Homo sapiens: one gene and its partners. The protein of the gene in region 2 interacts with the protein of the main gene of each other region in a pairwise test. Each region holds a gene or a part of one and is shown on either strand. Other genes may lie near its edges.

Evidence for each region.
Region 1: the proteins of PPFIBP1 (region 2) and PPFIA3 interact in a two-hybrid assay, tested with the Homo sapiens proteins (one study listed by BioGRID).
Region 3: the proteins of PPFIBP1 (region 2) and PPFIA2 interact in a two-hybrid assay, tested with the Homo sapiens proteins (one study listed by BioGRID).

The regions. Positions count from the first base shown.
Region 1 is NC_000019.10:49,136,482-49,140,231, reverse strand, and holds part of PPFIA3 (liprin-alpha-3), read right to left. Parts: intron 3,509-3,750; coding exon 3,321-3,508; intron 2,028-3,320; coding exon 1,805-2,027; intron 565-1,804; coding exon 401-564; intron 272-400; coding exon 144-271; intron 1-143. UniProt on the Homo sapiens protein: May regulate the disassembly of focal adhesions. May localize receptor-like tyrosine phosphatases type 2A at specific sites on the plasma membrane, possibly regulating their interaction with the extracellular environment and their association with substrates.
Region 2 is NC_000012.12:27,681,078-27,684,827, reverse strand, and holds part of PPFIBP1 (liprin-beta-1), read right to left. Parts: intron 3,283-3,750; coding exon 3,132-3,282; intron 2,442-3,131; coding exon 2,330-2,441; intron 2,214-2,329; coding exon 2,125-2,213; intron 1-2,124. UniProt on the Homo sapiens protein: May regulate the disassembly of focal adhesions. Did not bind receptor-like tyrosine phosphatases type 2A.
Region 3 is NC_000012.12:81,757,871-81,761,620, reverse strand, and holds the start of PPFIA2 (liprin-alpha-2), read left to right. Parts: upstream 1-2,270; 5' UTR 2,271-2,341; intron 2,342-2,965; exon of another isoform or gene 2,966-3,113; 5' UTR 3,114-3,221; intron 3,222-3,750. UniProt on the Homo sapiens protein: Alters PTPRF cellular localization and induces PTPRF clustering. May regulate the disassembly of focal adhesions.

The DNA of each region.
Region 1 (3,750 bases), on a different chromosome or scaffold from region 2:
GCTGTGTTCCTTCCAAATTCTAAATAAATCACCAAATGAATGAAGACATGAATGGATGTCAAATGAACATACAAAGAAGAAAGAAAGGGAGGGAGGAAGGGAGGAAGGAACAAAGGAGGGAAGGGTTAGAGTGAGGTACTCACCCAGAGAAGAGCTGTCCCGGCCTGGGGGTCCCATTCGTCCCTTCTCTTTCTTGCCAAAGAGACGGCCTATGGATGACTTGATGCTCTTCTTCTTGGGGGCTTTGTGCAGAGAATCTGGGGTGCCCTCACTGGGAAAGCAGGAGAGAATGAGAGCATATGCTTGCTGAGATGCCCCCTCTCCTCCCAAGTCCTTGTCCACCCCCTTCTCATCTTCCCAAGCCAGCTTCTCCCTGTCCCTATCCCTTGTCCCTGCTGACCTTCCCCGTGGGGGTCCCCCATCTTCCAGGGACCCCGCCTGCAGTGCCAAGGCCTGGGTCATTCTCTCAAGACGGGCAGAGCGGGGAGTGGGTGGTGGGGTGTCTCCTGGGATGGCCGGCCCCTCCCCTCGTGGAGCTCCAGCTTCCTCCTTAGGGACATGATTCTGAGGACAGAGGGCACAGATGCTGGATTGAGTTCAAAGAGTCATGTCGGGGGCTCCTTATTAACTGAGATGTCTACTAAGGTGTGTGTGGGGTGACCCTGGTTTAGAACACAGTATACGAAGGTAGTCTAGCTCAAGTCAGGGTGAGTTGCAGAAACTTTTTTTTTTTTTTTTTTTTGAGATGGAGTTTCACTCTTGTGGCCCAGGCTGGAGTGCAATGGCACAATCTCGGCTCACTGCAACCTCTGCCTCCCAGGTTCAAGAGATTCTCCTGCCTCAGCCTCCCAAGTAGCTGAGATTAAAGGCATGTGCCACCATGCCCGGGTAATTTTTTTTTTTTTTTTGAGACAGAGTCTAGCTCTGTCGCCAGGCTGGAGTGCAGTGGCATGATCTCAGCTCACTGCAACCTCTGCCTCCCGGGTTTAAGTGATTCTTTAGCCTCAGCCTCCCAAGAAGCTGGGACTACAGGCCCACACCACCATACACGGATAATTTTGTATTTTTAGTAGAGATGGGGTTTCACCATGTTGGTCAGGCCTCAAAGAAAGCTAATGAGTTACAGGTTCTGGAAGCAGGAAAGCTGAATTTAAGGGAGTAAAATAGGGCCAATATCTCTTTGTCTCCCTCAAAGGTCAATTCTGAGGATCTAATTTGTAGTTCTCCAATGCATGTTGTCACAGAAACTTTTTTTTTTTTTGAGACACAGTTTCACTCTGTCTCCCAGGTTGGAGTGCAGTGGCACAATTTCAACTCACTGCAAACTCTGCCTCTTGGGTTCAATTGATTCTCCTGCATCAGCCTCCCGAGTAACTGGAATTACAGGCACGTGCCACCAGGCCAGGCTAATTTTTGTATTTTTAGTAGAGGTGGGGGTTTCACCATGTTGGCCAGGTGGGTCTCGAACTCCTGACCTCAAGTGATCTGCCCACCTTGGCCTCCCGAAGTGCTGGGATTACAGGCGTGAGCCACCGCACCCAGCCAGAAACTTTTTAAAATCCTATGCAGAAACTTGACGCATGAGAAATAAAAGTAGACCAGATCTGACTAAAGTGAAAGTTAGGGTTCAAGATCCCAGTGACTCAGCCTCCCCTTTGCCCTTTGAGTTTGAACCTTTAGGGAAAGCTGAGGTTGCTTTGGAAAACCACTGGTGTGAGGGGTTATTGTTGCTGTACACTGGGGAGCCCTGCCTCTGACCTCTCCCCATCCCCCTACTAGGCTGGGGAGACTTCAGAGCACTCACAGCCTTGTCGGTGCCCTCACGGGCAGGGCTAGGGGGTGCCAGGCGGGGTGTTGAGTGGCCAGAGCTGGGAGGGGAGGGGCTGGCAAGGGTAGAGGTGGTGAGGGAGGGGGGCAGGGAGCAGCTGCTGCGGTAGCGGCCCAACGAGTCCAAGCCAGAGCTGGACACCCGACTCTCCAGCTCCTCTGCCCTCTGTTCTGTTGTCTCCTTCTCCTCTTGGATCAGCCTGAGGAGGGAAATAGGGGAAACTGGGTGAGGGGCCGCAGCAGACAGCGGGAGAGGGAATCTGGGAGCACAATGGGCCAGAAAGGCCTGGTGGGGCAATGGGAATTCTGGGGACGGTGCAATGACGTCAGAGGACTTTGGTGGGTTTCTGAAGGCCTTCCAGGCTCAAGGAGAGTCAAGGGGTCCTGAGAGTCTCAGGAAGTCATTGCAGGATTAGGGCTATCAAGGTGATTGGGGTTTGTATCAGGGTGGCCCTGATGATAGTCAAGGGGTTTGGAAAATCATGAAGGGATTACTATGGACAAAAGGTCAAGTTCAAGGTGGCCTGTAAGAGCAAGGTCATAATAGGAGCATTGTGAGATCAGGGACTCAGGCCAATCTAGGATCTGGGAAGGGCATGGACTCATTTGGTATGGAAAGTGGTGGTCATGGTATATTTGCCGAAGGCTCATGGGGAGTACATTATAAGAGAATTGCTGAATATGGCCATTGCTGGTGAATCAGGGTAGACTTTACATCACTGGGGGCTTCTTAATAAGTTGGGGACTTTTTTTTTTTTTTTTTTTTTTTTTTTTTTGACACGGAGTCTCGCTCTGTAGCCCAGGCTGGAGTGCATGGCACTATCTCGGCTCACTGCAAGCTCCGCCTCCCGGGTTCATGCCATTCTCCTGCCTCAGCCTCCTGAGTAGCTGGGACTACGGGCGCCTGCCACCATGCCTGGCTAATTTTTTGCATTTTTAGTAGAGACAGGTTTTCACCATGTTAGCCAGGATGGTCTCTATCTCCTGACCTCATGACCTCATGATCCGCTGGCCTCAGCCTCCCAAAGTGCTGGGATTACAGGCGTGAGCCACTGTGCCCAGCCTGGAGTTGAAGTTTTTGATTAGCATGTTAGGATGAGATTCTTGGTGTTTGAGGTTGGGAACCTTGTGTTGTCTTGAGATTCCTAGGGTAGTGGGAGACTCTGGGCACTGGTTATGTGAAACCACAAAATCGATGGCGTAATGGAAGATTCTTGATGCATCAAGAGGAACTGGGCTATTTGGGGATGCAGGCTTTGGTGTGTTGGGGAATGGTGAGTACTGGCTGGGGGGTATATGTGTAGGTAGCACATAGAAGACTTCTGAGTGTATCCTAGGGGATGCCTGGACAGCGGAGTGAGTGTTGGGCTGGAAGAATTCCTTGTGGATGGTGTAAGAGGAGACGGACTCAGGCTTTCAGGCCTCCAGAGCCAGAAGGGCTGTGGAGTCAGCTCCGGCAGGGCAGGGCAGGCCGGGGCGGGGCCAGGGCTCACTTGATCTCCTTGTTGATGGCCTCCAGCTGCTCCTGAAGCATGATGGCCAGCGTCTGCACGTCAGCCTGCCCACTGGGGGACAGCAGCTCGGCCCCAAACATCCCCTCTGCCTCCTCCTCATCGGAGCCGTCCAGTTCCCCAGGGAATGGGGGTGGTATGGAGCCCGCAGGGGCAGACCGCTCCCAATCCTATCCCTGTGTGGGGACAGAGGGACATTAGGTGGCTGGGGGCCGAGGTTGGCGCTGGGTCTTGGCTCATGATCCTGACTTGCCCGACCTCACTGATGCTTTTCCCAGCCCAGCTTTATTTTTTTTATTTTATTTATTTTTTCTTGAGACAGAGTCTCATTCTGTCGCCCAGGCTGGAGTGCAGTGGCGCAATCTCGGGTTACGCCTCCCAGGTTCGAACGATTCTTCTGCCTCAGTCTCCT
Region 2 (3,750 bases):
TGGCAACTCCTCTGTAAATCTAAAATTATCTTAAAATAAAAAGTTTTAAAAACTTTTTAATATATATTATACACACTATAATAATATTAGTAATATTAACTAAAAGGGTTATTGAGAATCCAGTATTAATATGAGCAAAATGCTTAAAAGGATGTTTGACACATAGCAAATGTGCAACATACTACACATATTAGTATTATTTCACGCAGGTTTATGTGATGTGCTCATCAAGGTAAGGGGCTTGGGTTCAATGACAGAGAAGAAAAATCCATGAACTGAACTCCAAATTTTTTTGACATTGAGAAATGCCTACTTAAGTTGGCTGTTTAAAACTTGCTACTTACTTGAAAAAGATTATACTTAGGGTAGTTAGGTCTATAGCCTACTTCACAAAAAGCTGTTTAAATAAAAGAATTTTAGGCCGGGCACAGTGGCTCACGCCTGTAATCCCAGCACTTTGGGAGGCCGAGGCAGGTGGATCTCCTGAGGTCAGAAGTTCCAGACCAGCCTGGCCAACATGGCGAAACTCCATCTCCACCAAAAACACAAAAATTAGCCAGGAGCAGTGGTGTGCACCTGTAATCCCAGCTACTCGGGTGGCTGAGGCAGGAGAATCACTTGAACCTGGGAGGTGGAGGTTGCCATGAGCCAAGATTGTGCCACTGCGCTCCAGCCTGGGCAGCAGAGTGAGACTCTGTCTCCAAAATAAATAAATAAATAAAAGAATTTTAAGTAGAACAAGGCCAGGCTCGGTGGCTCACGCCTGTAATCCCAGCACTTTGGGAGGCCAAGGTGGGTGGATAACGAGGTCAGGAGATCGAGACCATCCTGGCTAACATGGTGAAACCCCGTCTCTATTAAAAATACAAAAAATTAGCCAGGCATGGTGGCAGGTGCCTGTAGTCCCAGCTACTTGGGAGGCTGAGGCAGGAGAATGGCATGAACCCAGGAGAGGGAGGTTGCAGTGAGCCGAGATCGCACCACTGCACTCCAGCCTGGGCGACAGAGCGAGACTCCGTCTCAAAATAAAATAAAATAAAATAAAAATAAAAATAAAAATAAATAAATAAAGAGAATTTTAAGTAGAACATTAATAGTGGTATGGAACCTAAAACAAAGTTCTCCTGGAATCCATCTTTCTCACTGCTGTAAAGCAGGGAATAGTCCTACACATTGGCTGGAGGGCTAGAAATGTACAATAATGAAGGAACCAGAGTAGAAGTCTAGCCTTCCTCCCTCCTCCTTTAACCCCAGTAACTCCTGCTGTAGCAGAACTAGGCTGAAGTGAGACGGGTGATAGGGTTTCAGGTAACAGTTGTCCAGAGTGGAAAGGAGAAGACAAGTCCTTGAAGATGTCAGGTCAAAAGGGTGGCCTCTTCCAAATGGTCATTGCACATAGAAACCCATAACTTAGAGATAGCTTGGGCTTAAAAATTCTACATTCTATTTAAAAAATATCTTTAGGCTGGGCGTGTTGACTCATGCCTATAATTCCAGCACTTTGGGAGGCCGAGGCAGGCAGGTCGCTTGAGGTCAGGAGTTTGAGACCAGCTGGCCAACATGGCGAAACTCCGTCTCTACTAAAAATACAAAAAAATTAGCTGGGTATGGTGGCGTGAGCCTGTAATCCCAGCTACTCGGGAGGCTGAGGCAGGAGAATGGCTTGAACCTGGGAGGTAGAGGTTACAGTGAGCTGAGATCACGTCATTGCACTCCAGCCTGGGTGACAGAGCGAGACTCCATCTCAAAAGAAATAATACAAAAAAAATCTTTATGAGATATAATTTGCATACCATAAAATGTACCCATTCAAAGTGTACACTTCAGTGTTTACTTTGTTGAATGTATTACATATAAAATCAACCTTCTGGAGAGCTTAGTTTAAATTAGGCTTCACTTAGCTTACATTGGGGTTTCAAATTATCCCAAGCCTGTTCAATCACAATCACCAAATGCTACAACTTCAGCCTCATGGGAAATATGCCTGCCACTCTCCTCAAGTTCAAGCAACAGCTTCAAACTCTGGTGGAATCACTGAAAACACTGTGTTTGGCTTACTCAATTCCTGTGTTTTTCAGAGAAAAAAAGTTTTCCTCCCCCAAACCCCAGGAGTGAGTCACTTACAACAGTCATGTAATGTAGCATTCGACCATCAACCCGTCCTTCATCAAACTGGGTCTTATATTGAGGGAGGCCAATGTCATCCAACCATCCTAAAAGAGAGAGGCCAGTGTTGCTACCATGCCACAAAACATCTGTTCTTGTGATTAAAAAGAAAAAGCAACTATGTATATAATTATTTCATTTTGTTAGAATAAAAACTTCTTACTAGTGACCCAGTTGAAATCCAGCTTCCCATGATTGGTTTCTTCTTCAGATCCCAGGGCTTGGAGTGCTAGCTGGAGTTTCTTTCGATGAAGTGAATGCTTGATTCCAAGTTCCTGAAACAATAAACATTGACTTTATAATTCTATCTGTATAGGCTGGGTGCCACTGGCAAAGGATGCAAATTTCTCCAAAATGAAGCTAGCATTAAAGACCCAATTCAATACTGAATTACAATCCCAACTTGGGCTAGTAAAGTGTTGTTGAACAAAAGGTCCCTGAAAAGCCAAGACCACCACAATTATCTTAGGGGTGTGTTAGGCATTCCCTAGTGACTCATTTTCTTTGTAAGCTAGGAACTGTAGCATGCATAAAAAGAATTTGACTCTTATTTTGTACAAAATATTAAATAATTTGGAAGAAATGTTAAATAATTAGACACAAATTGTAGGGTGCTTTTTTTTTTTCTTTTGCAAAGTGAAGTTAATTGCATATCTTACACTGAGAAAAACAGGCCAATGATAAAGCCAAACAATGATTTCGAGAAATATGAACTGAATTATGCTTATGTAATTCTTTTTCATTAAAATGCCCAATGGCTTAAGTGTTCCATAAGGAATCATCAAGACCAGGTCCTCCCAAGACCACCAGAAAAAAGAAGCATGAAGCAATTGAAAACCCAAACTTTTGTTTACAGAGTTTTTACTGGCTTCACTCATGGCCCTTTCTGGACTATAAAACAACCCTACATTCATACTGTTTTCTTCTCAGTATCCATTGTGTGAACAAAACAGAGAAGCAGTCACCTTCTCTAGATCTTGTTGAGAAGCCTGCAAAAGCGTTTGGCCAGATGCAATCCAGTGCTTGCCAGAATTCAGGTACGAGCCCAAGCCCTGTTCCATCAGCCAATTGCAAACCTGCTCCTTGGTCCACTTGGCAAATGGCATATCCAAGTCACTACAGGAAAATGAGTAATTGCATGAAAAATAATCCAAAGCCAATCCTGTGGCTTATCATTAGTTTTAAACAACTATACATTCAATAGACATGGAAATTCCCTGGTGATACACATTTGACCATGAAAAGCTTAATTTTTAGTATACATTGGAGGAACAACTGGTTGAAAGTTATCTTCTAAGACCACTGTCTTCATTTCAAATGAAACCACAAAAGATTTAACGTGATAGAGCAAGAACAAGTGCTACAGAAAAAGACCAAATTGGACAAACACAAGTCACTGTATCAGTTTTAACCAATGTTGTTTGAAGATTGGATTCCCAAACAGGAAACTCAGTTGGACTGAAAGAAACTTAAGTCTAATTTGAACTAACTTTAGCAGAATTATGGTTTCTTTCCATATGGTAACCAATGAGAAGAGGGCAATATGTTGTCACTGAGTGTAGGAAACAATCAAAGCAAAATTCC
Region 3 (3,750 bases), about 54 Mb from region 2:
TTTCTTTGAATAAAAAATATTTCCCTGTTCTTTTTTTTTTTTTTTTTTTTTGCTCTGTGCTTCTTTTGTTCCCAAATTTCTCCAGATGTATCTACACAGTGTTTCTCAGAGTGGGATCCCTGACCTAGCAATATTAGTACCACCTGGGAACTTAATAGGCACGTAATGAATCAGATGTAATGAATCAGAAACTCGAAGGATAGGGCCCAGCAATCTGTGTTGTAACAAGCCCTTCTGGAGTGTCTCTTGTATGCTAAATTTAAGGGCCTAAACTAGAGAAACTGGTGCAGGTGGTAACTCTTCTCATGTGAATCGGCTCACCTAATGCCTCATGCAAAATTGCTACTTTAAACAGTCTTTCTCAGTTTTAATATATTATTTACACTCTTTGCAGTGAAGTTAGCAGTGATAATGTCAAGTTTTTCAGCTGAAATTTACTATGAAGACTGTATCTTCTTAACAAAATATCCTTTAACTCGTGATATTTTTTTCTGCCTCCCATTATCAAAGTTTTTCTTTCTGCGATACCTACCATGGGTTAGCCTTTAACTATGCTGTGTCAACTGTATGTGGGGATTATACTTACAATTAAAACTTGTATTTGACATACGAATGGGACTCAAGGAAATCAAAACTCTTCTTGGAAACAGTAGGAACATCTGAGCCAGTAATTAACAAACGTTGATTGCCAAGGAAATTCAAACCAAGGTTTAATAAGGAAGGAATTCTTGTAAAAATAGACATAATAGCTATATGTAAAAATAAGAATATCTCTCATGTATAAGGAATTTTTATGTTTTGTGTAGAATTCTAGAGAGTGAAAGTTATGAGTACTGATATATGATTAGTATGTTGAAGCTATTACAATATGAAGTTTGTCTGAAAATAGACTAGGCTATCCTGTGAGGTGAAGAGTTTCCTGTAGTTAGGGGTATTTAAGCCACATCAAATTGTGGGTCGATTGGGTGGTCTAGACCCTTCCTCCTCAAGTGTAGTACCATCTGGGAGTCATTAGAAGGGTAGAATTTCAGGTTTCACCCCATTCCTGGTGAATCAGTATCTACAACTTAACAAGATCCATGGATGATCTGTATGCACATTATGTCTGAGAAATAGTGCTCCAGTTGACATCTAATGAATTTTCGTATTATTTTTATACTTCTTATAGGATTGTGTTGTGTTGTAAAATTTAAATAACAGTCTAGAATAGAAGTTGGGTAAATACATGAGCTTTACCCCACTTTCCATTGTAAAGTCGCTAACTGAATTAAATACTTCCCTCAGAAACAAAGATTGTTTCTTGGATATTGTAGTTAATTTTAAGTGAACAGTTATTTACATACTAGTTCTTTGTTAACTTTGGACTCTTGGCGTTACACAAAAGTAAAACACGTCTTTTGGCTTTCGTGTAGCACACTCAGAATATTTTCAGTAACCCCCAAAATATATTCAGTGTTTAATCCTCCAATTCCTTCATGCATGTCCTCTTCATTTTCACCAAACCCAGCAGGATTCGTGACTCTCCCTCACAGAAACGTTCCCTTTCTGCTCAGAGTAGGTACTGATTTTGTCTCCTGCTTCCTCAGTCTGTATGAATGGACAGCAGCAACGGAAAGAAAAGAGGGTAGGTAAAGGGAGGTGGAGATATAAGGGGGACTGGAGCGCGATGGAGAGACCAGACTCTGCTCAAAGCTAAAATTTACTCGGGCAGGGAATACTTAACATACAATTCCCATTACCAAAACAATATGAATGAAGAAGAACTGAAGAGGTAATGAGAAATGACAGATGCCGCCACACCCTAGATTGGCTCAGGTCCCTACAACCATGACTACCATGCCCTGGCCCAGTGGGAAGAAAGCTGCTTAAAGAAATGACAAGCACAGAAGACCGGGGAGCCAAAAGGTGCCCAAGTCCGTTCCCATCCCCACCAGCGCAGGCTGACACAAGCGAAGGCTGTAGAGCCCATTGTGTGAAAGAAGCCCAGGCGGGGAAGCGTGTGCCCCCTTCCCACTTTGCCCATCCCTGGCCCTCGCCTTCGCAGGGGGCACTGGGAGCAGAGCGAGCCTCGGCAGCCCGGGAGCGGCTCTGGGGGAGACGAGTGTATCCGCGGGCGCGTGTGCGTGAGGAGGAGAGCAAAGACGTGATTACTTCAGAATTTATTTAAGGGCCGGTGGAAACCACTGCAGCAGCTTCCAGGGGAAGCCCTTGTTCCAGAGGAAGAGGAGGTGGTGGCTGCCAAGGAGGAGGAGGGGAGGAGACGGAGGAGGAGGAGTAGCAGCCACCGCACGAGGCAAGTGAGGAGAGAAGATGCTGTAGCGTCCTCACCGGCTGCCAGCAGGTTGGTTCTTCCGGCCAATTGAAGCAAGCAAAGAGGCTTGCAGAAAGGCCGGGAGGAGAAAAATGGGTGTGTGTGCTGTGGCGGCGGGGGGGCGGCGGGGGGGAGGGAAGGGGGGCCGGGGGACGGCGTGGGGTGATGTTTGCCTTTCCAGAGAAAAAGCGCCTCCTTTAAGTGAAACGAGACACGGGAGCGCGCGGAAACAGGCTGGGGGCCAGGAGGAGACCTGTCCTGCTTTTTGCATCCCTAGGGACTCGTTTTCCTTTAGGTTTCTAACTCCCAGGGTTAGCCTTAAACTCCAGAGGGGCTCCAGGAGGGGAGACTGGGTGGAGAACTTCTCTCCCAGATACTTCTCACGCCTTTTCTCCAAGCTTTCTTTTGGAGGGACGCCCCACACACCCCGGGTGGCCCGGGCGCGGAGGGGGAGCGGCGCCGCGTGGTTAAGTTTCTGAAAGTCAAACCCAGTCCCCGGTCTCCGGTCTCCGCCCCGGGGCTCCAGCTGCACGCGGGGAGCTGCGGCTGTTCTGGCAAAGGGGCCGCGGCTGCTTTAAGAGCCGCCTCCCCCTCTCCTCCTTTGACAATGGTCTGAACCGAGCTTTGCTTCCCAAAGCAAAATTTGTAATATGCCATTTTTCCGATGGACGCTTCTCCTTTTGGCTGCTGACGGAGCCACGGGAAGATGCCGAGCTCCTGCCACGCCACCGGGCCGGGGCACGTTCCGGGAGGGCGCCGGGGCACGCGTGTGTCTGAGCTGCCTTTCTCCTCCCGTTGCTAGGGAAATGGTCCAGGAGTGCTGGGTGTGAGCCTCCCTTCTCCTCAAGCCGGAGACTGCGGTTGTCATTGATCAATTGAAGAAGCAAGGACCCGAAATCACAGACATTAGGTACAGAAGCTGTCTTTGAGTTTTACTGTCTCCTTTCGCTGTATTTTTTGACCACCTCCCCGGCCCCACCCCGCCCCCAGGGAAGATGAGATGCAAATTCCTCCTTGTTGATTACCGTTAGGTGCCTTTTGCTTTCACCTCATCCTCTCCATCTCCTATCTCTCTACCTCCTGCCTACTTGGCTGTGTCCTGTTGGGCAGGATGAACAATTTTAGTGTGGAAATGATGAAGTCAACTTCTTCAAGGTGGTGGGGGGTGTGGCTGAGAGATAACTGTCCAGTAGTGTGGGTTGAGCTGGCTCTGGCTGTCCGTAAATGCACTAGGGTAAAGAAAGTGTAAAATGTGTCCATTAAAGGTGATAATCATATTTCCCGAGGACAGAGGCTTTCAAAGAGTTAAATAGGAGGGAGAATATTCATGTAATGTAATCAGACAATGGCTAGGATTTCTCTCACTGAATTACTCCTTGTAGGTTAACTGAGGTGGAGCTGGGATGGTTCTTAAGACTAAATGTTTTCAGAAGAAACTC